Regions from separate parts of the Homo sapiens genome. Here region 2 is linked to region 1. Evidence: fine-mapped expression QTL. A gene starts in region 1. The other region holds a variant in brackets. All regions are shown on one strand. Distances are from middle to middle. Region 1 holds the start of KCNQ4 (potassium voltage-gated channel subfamily Q member 4). Region 2 overlaps KCNQ4 (potassium voltage-gated channel subfamily Q member 4).

Region 1 (2,895 bases):
TACCCCTCTCCTCTTTCTTTTTCCCCTGGTGCCTAGAGCCAGGCCTGGTGCTGCCAGCCAACAAGGCAGGCGAGCTGGGCCAAGCCGGCAGGGTAGGGCAGGGCAGGCAGGGCGGCCGCCGTTGCCACTGGGAAGTTGAGGGTGGAGGGGAAGACTGAGCGAAGACACAGATCAAGTCGGACACAGCATATGCGAGTGTCAGGGCCCAGGGGGCCCACAGGGACCCCCACACACCCACAGTCAGCTGGGCAGGGGTAGGAATGAGGGCCGCCCTGGAGAGGAGCACCCCTGAGGGGAGCCCTTCATAGCTCAGAGCTGGGGAGCAGGTGACAGAAGCGTGTGGGAGCCAAGGGTTCCTCTTTGTGTCTGGGACACAGGGAGGCAGGGGTGGGGAAGAGGAAAAGGGCGCCCACTCCAGGGGCCCCAGACTTCGCCAAGCGGACTTGGGGGAGGCAGCTGGCGGTCGGGAGTACCTGGGACAGAGGAGCAGAGATTGGCGGTCAGGATGGAAATAAGCAGTTGCGGTGCGGGGAGGTCAGAAGCGAGGTCAAGCAGGGGTCAGGCCTGGGAGATCAGGGCTTAGGGTCGGGCTCAGCGAGGGGATCAGAAACCGGGCTTAGGCCTGGGGGGAGAGAGATGAGGGTCGGCCCTGAGGCAGGGGGGTAGAAGGCGGAGCCAGGGCGGGGCGGCCGTGCCCCGGGAGGCCAGGCTTGCGCGGGGAAACGCGGAAGGGCGCGGGGTCGCAAACTCACATGAAGACGTGGTAGACGAAGGCCCAGCCGCGGGGCCGCTCCAGCACGTTGTAGACCCAGTTCTGCAGGCGGCGGTAGCGCTTGTGCGCGGCCGAGGAGCGCTGGCCGCAGGCGGAGCCCGAGCCGGAGCCCGGCCCAGGGAGGGGCGCGCCCGGCGGCAGGGGGCTGCCCAGGAGGCCGAGGCGGCGCGGGGAGCCGCCCCCGCCCGCCTCGCCCTGTTCGCTCTGCACGGCCGTGAGCGCCACTAGCTCCGCGCGGGGGGCGTCCCCGGGCGGGGGACCCAGGCCGAGGCGGCGCGGGGGGGCCTCGGCCATGGGCGGCGCCGGGCTGGGGGCGCCGGGGCCCGGGCACGGTCCGGGGCGGGGGCGCGCTCGGGGCGCTCAGAGACGCATGGCTCGGACCCGGGGCCAGAGGGGCGACCCGGGGCGGGCGCGGGCGGCGGGGGCTAGGGGCCGGGCCGGGGCCGCGGGCGGGCGCTCGGAGCCTGGGGGCCGCCGGAGCCCGCACTGACCTCCCGCTTCCCCGGCGACTGGGGCTGCTCTTTCCGACTCCAACTCTCTTATTACGCGCTCCATGCCGCTCGCCTTTCCACCTGCCACCGGCGCGCGCCGCTCACATGTCACCCTCCCCCGCCCCGCCCCTCCCCCGCCCGCCCCGCGGCCGCCTTCCCAAATCGGGAGGGAGCGAGCGAGCAAGCGAGGCGAGGCGGAGGGAGGGAACGCGCGGAGCAGGCGGCGGGGCAGGGCGCACGGGCGGCCGAGTTGGTGCCTGGGCCGAACCGCGTGGCGGGGGCAGCGCGCGGGGCCGGGAAGCCGGACGCGTGCAAGTGGTGTCCACCGCTGCGTGGGGCAGTGTGGCCCCGAAGGCCAGCCCGGGGTGGGACGCCTCGTGTGTGCTTGTGGAAAGTGGAATGTGGAGTTGTGGCCGCGGGCGGCAGGGGAAGGGACGCAGTGTCCCGTGGAGTTTAGGTGTAGACCGGTGGAACGGCGTCTACTTGTGTGTGCAGGGTGGGTGGCTGTGGGTCTACCAGGTGCGGGGATGGAGTCAGTGAGGTGTGAGTTATGGGTCGGGTGTGGGTGGCTGCGAAAGTGGAGGTGGAGTCCGAAGGGGATGAGGTGTGTCCGTTGGGGTCGAGCACTGTGTGCCTGGTGCGGGTGCTTAAAGTGTGCCCAGTGCTGTGTGTGGCTGGGTGGGCAGCGGCGGTTGTCCTGCTCTTACCTGAAAGGCCTGGAGCCCACGGGCTGCTAGGCAGCATCAGGGTGTGTGGAACACAGTGGGCCTGGGTGTGTCTTTCTCCCACCAACTGCCACCTCTGAGCTTCCCTTCATCGTGATGGGGGAAGAGCCACCCTGCCCAGAAGAGGATCCTCCCCGATGGAGGGGCCTGCTCCCCTGCCCCACTCCCAGGTCAGGGAACTGGGTTTGGGCAGATGGAGTGTTGGGAGATGAGCTCTAAGCCAGCCTTAGAGGGGACACACACCCCCTACCCAAGGCCCACAGAATCCCAGCCAGAAAAGGGGATACTTTGTCCCAGGGCATTCCCTCTCCAGCTGGAAAGTTTTTCTTAGTCCCCGACCTCCATCTCTCTGGCTGTAGGGGGCAGTCCCTCTCCTTTAGCCCTCCTGGGCCCTGCACAGGGTTGGTAACTTGGGTTTCCCGATCCTCTTTCCCTCTTCCTCCACGGAAAGCTGCGGCCACACCAGCCGCTCCCTCCGCAGGCCCTGCCCCAGGGTGAGCCTTCCGCAGCAAACTCTTCCCGGTTCCTCCGGGAGGATCTCGAGGGACGAAGCCGAGCGGGAGGGGCGGGGGAAGGGGCGGGAAGGCGAGCTCGATTCTCAGCTGTCAGCAAAGGCAGCATTGATCTGCTGAGCGCCAGTGAGGGAGGGAGGGAGGCAGGGCCGTGGGCTGCAGGGATCTGTGGGGTCCCTAAACTGGGCTTGGCAACCGGCCCACACCCCTACCCCATAGTGATCCTTTCCCCTCTGCCTAGCTGGGGGTGCCCTCTGGGGTCTGACCTGAATCTCTTCTGCTGCTCCTGGTCCAGGTGTGCCCAGGGCCAGAGCCGGGTGCCCCAGGGCAGGTTATGCCCGGATCCTCTACTGGAAGCTGGGGACAGTTTCTGGACCCCAAGGCCCCACTAGGGA
Region 2 (2,895 bases), 33 kb before region 1:
TTTTGTCCTGAGAAGGGGTGGAGCCTACTCACTTCTATTCTGGACCCATCATAAGCCCTTGCATAGAGGCAGGAGGTCCCCCAACACTTGCTATAAAGTGGAGATGATGCCCAGAGAGGGGCAGCCACAGCTGAGGGAACACAGCACAGCAAGCTGCTCTCTGAGCCATGGTATGAGAAGCCTCTTTCCACCTTCAGCCCTCAGCCCAGAGGTGCCACCTCACACGGCCCCCCTCAGTCCCGGACTCCCAGCCCAGAGGTGCTACCTCACACAGCCCCCTTCAGTCCCGGACTCCCAGCCCAGAGGTGCTACCTCACACAGCCCCCCTCAGTCCCGGACTCCCAGCCCAGAGGTGCTACCTCACACAGCCCCCCTCAGTCCCGGACTCCCAGCACTTACCAAGATGAGGAGACACTCGTTGGCAAGTTCCTGGTGCTCCTGGATAGTGGACAGCACAGACAGCACCAGGCAGCTGAAGACCAGCAAAAATCTGCAATTACAACATGAGGGAGAGGGTTAGATTGTTGGAGGGACAGGACAGCCAAGGTGCCCCTGGCAGGGGGTTACAGAGCCAAGAGAGGAGAACATTATTTTCAGAAAATTATGTGGAAATCAGAATTGGAATTCCCTGGAGTTACAGCTCTGTGCTGGGCACCAAAGGCAGCAGCCCTCAAGCCCCAAGCTACTGGACCTCACAACTATCTCAATTGCCCCCTGCTGCAGGCTGCAGCTCAGAGAGGTAGTCACTCATCTGTGAGTAGCAGGTCTGGCAGTGGAAATAGACTGACTCAGGGTTCCTCCAGGTCTAGCCATCCACAAGTGGTGGCCTTGGCCCCAGCTTGGTTTTAAGATGTCTTGGGAGAAGTGCCCCAGAGGTCAGCCCAGGGCTCAGGGAAGGTCAGCGGATGAAGGAGGGACCTTCTTTCTTATGCACTCCAAAGTGGCAGGAGCCTGGCCTCATCTGCAGAATTGGGACAACTGCCCCTGCCTTCGTGGAATTAAGTAACGAGACAGCTAGAAAAGGAAAGAGGATCATGGAGGACAGGTAGAGAAGGAATGATGCAGCAGGGAGAGGATGTAGGGAGGGGAATTGGGCAGTGTGGAGCTGGGCCATCGAGGCCAGGAACTTCCCTGCAGACAGCATGAAACTACAGAGTGGCCCAGAACCAGAGACATAGAAATGGAAGGAACTTTAGACCCTAGCACATCCAATACTTCCCTCATCCCCCAGTGCACCACGAGGAAACAGGCCCGAAGAGGAAGAAGGACTCACCCTTTGTCGCCCAGTGTGCCCAGGACAGAGCTGAGATTAGAGCCAGGGTTCCCAACCTCCCAGTGGATGGGAAGAGGACCAAGGGCATGAGGAGAGAAACTGGTGGCCTTGCGGTATGTGGATGGGTGAAGGAGAGCGAGGTGAGAGGTCACAGGCTGCAGACACAGCAGAGGCGAATGAGGTGGCCTCCAGGAGCACCCCTCTTTAGGATGGGGGTGTGCTGAACATGCACACACCCTGGAGGAGACTCCGGAGGGAACAGGCTTCTCTGGAAATACATCTCTGTGTACTGACCCGCCAGCCTTCCCAGATGTCCCCAGTCTCCCCACCTCTGCACCGTTGCTGGCACGGTGCATGCTACGCAGAACACCTCATGTCTGTGCCTGCGAGACTCTGCTCATCGTCCACGCCTACAGGAACACAAATGCTACAA[AG/G]CTCTACGGAGCCTCTGATTCCCGCACCCCACTATCCCCCCTTCAGAACTGCCAACTCCCGATGCTTGCCTCCCTATGTGTGGCCCAAGTCACCTTCTATGTGGCTTTATTTATATTCATGTTTCGTGGTGACCTTAAGGACAGCAGCTCGGGGTCAGAGAGACCTGAGTTTGGATCCCAGTCCTGCTTGTGTGTGTGGTTTTGAGACTGTCACCTGCCTTCTCTGAGCCATCTCGTTATCTATGAAGTGGGGGCTATGGAAGGAAGACATGCAAAGGGCGTGGCACTGCCCTGGCTCACTTACACCTCCTGGACAGGGGTTCCTGACCTTTTTGGGGGGCAAGTGTATCCCAGCAAATACCCCTGGTTTGAGAAGGTAGGTGGCAGATGTCGGTAAAGTGTTATGAGTGAATGAGTTCGAGAAGAGCTTATTCCTCGGCCAGTTCCAGACCAGAGCTGAGTCAGCAAAAACACGGGGTACGGGAGAACAGAAGAGAAGAGCACCAGCTCCTCATGTTCAATAATTAATCACAAAAAAGGCAGCGGCCACATGTACCTGCATCGGGACTGCAGCTGAAGCAGGGTTTAGGACCAGAAGGGTCCTTCATGAGGTTATCTCATGCAGCCCTCTCCTCGGGGAATGGCCACAGCCAGGACTTTTTAAGACTTTACCCCGGCCTTGACAGACACCCTCCAGTCCCGTTTCTCAGCTGACCTCAGAAGCTCAGGCAGCAGTGGGCCACTCTGGGGACTTCTTCTTGAATGTTTCATTAACACTTTTCTTTTTCCTTTTGCTTTTTTTTTTTTTTGAGATGGAGTCTCATCCTGTTACCAGGCTGAAGTGCAGTGGTGTGATCTCGGCTCACTGCAACCTCCGCCTCCCGGGTTCAAGCGATTCTGCTGCCTCAGCCTCCCGAGTAGCTGGGGCTACAGGCACATGCCACCGTGCCCAGCTAATTTTTGTATTTTTAGTAGAGACGGGGTTGCACCATGTTGGCCAGGATGGTCTTGATCTCCTGACCTCGTGATCCACCTGCCTCGGCCTCCCAAAGTGCTGGGATTACAGGCGTGAGCCACCAAGCCTGGCCATCATTAACACTTTTCTTGCCATGTCAGTAATTACACATCTATAAAATTTCCACTTCACAATTTAAAAAAAAAGGAAAGCAGATTATAAAACCTTAACGG

Evidence for each region.
Region 2: its variant is fine-mapped to the expression of KCNQ4 in whole blood (TOPMed, PIP above 0.99).

What each region holds. Positions count from the first base shown.
Region 1 is chr1:40,782,265-40,785,159 of GRCh38, reverse strand. It overlaps KCNQ4 (potassium voltage-gated channel subfamily Q member 4), which reads right to left and starts at 1,373. Exons shown (of 14, transcript NM_004700.4): 1 at 753-1,373. The coding sequence starts at 1,066.
Region 2 is chr1:40,814,860-40,817,754 of GRCh38, reverse strand. It overlaps KCNQ4 (potassium voltage-gated channel subfamily Q member 4), which reads right to left. Exons shown (of 14, transcript NM_004700.4): 2 at 400-490. Among named protein-coding and RNA genes, the nearest start is that of KCNQ4, 33 kb to the right of the region's middle. The variant AG/G (reference allele first, on the strand shown) is at 1,707.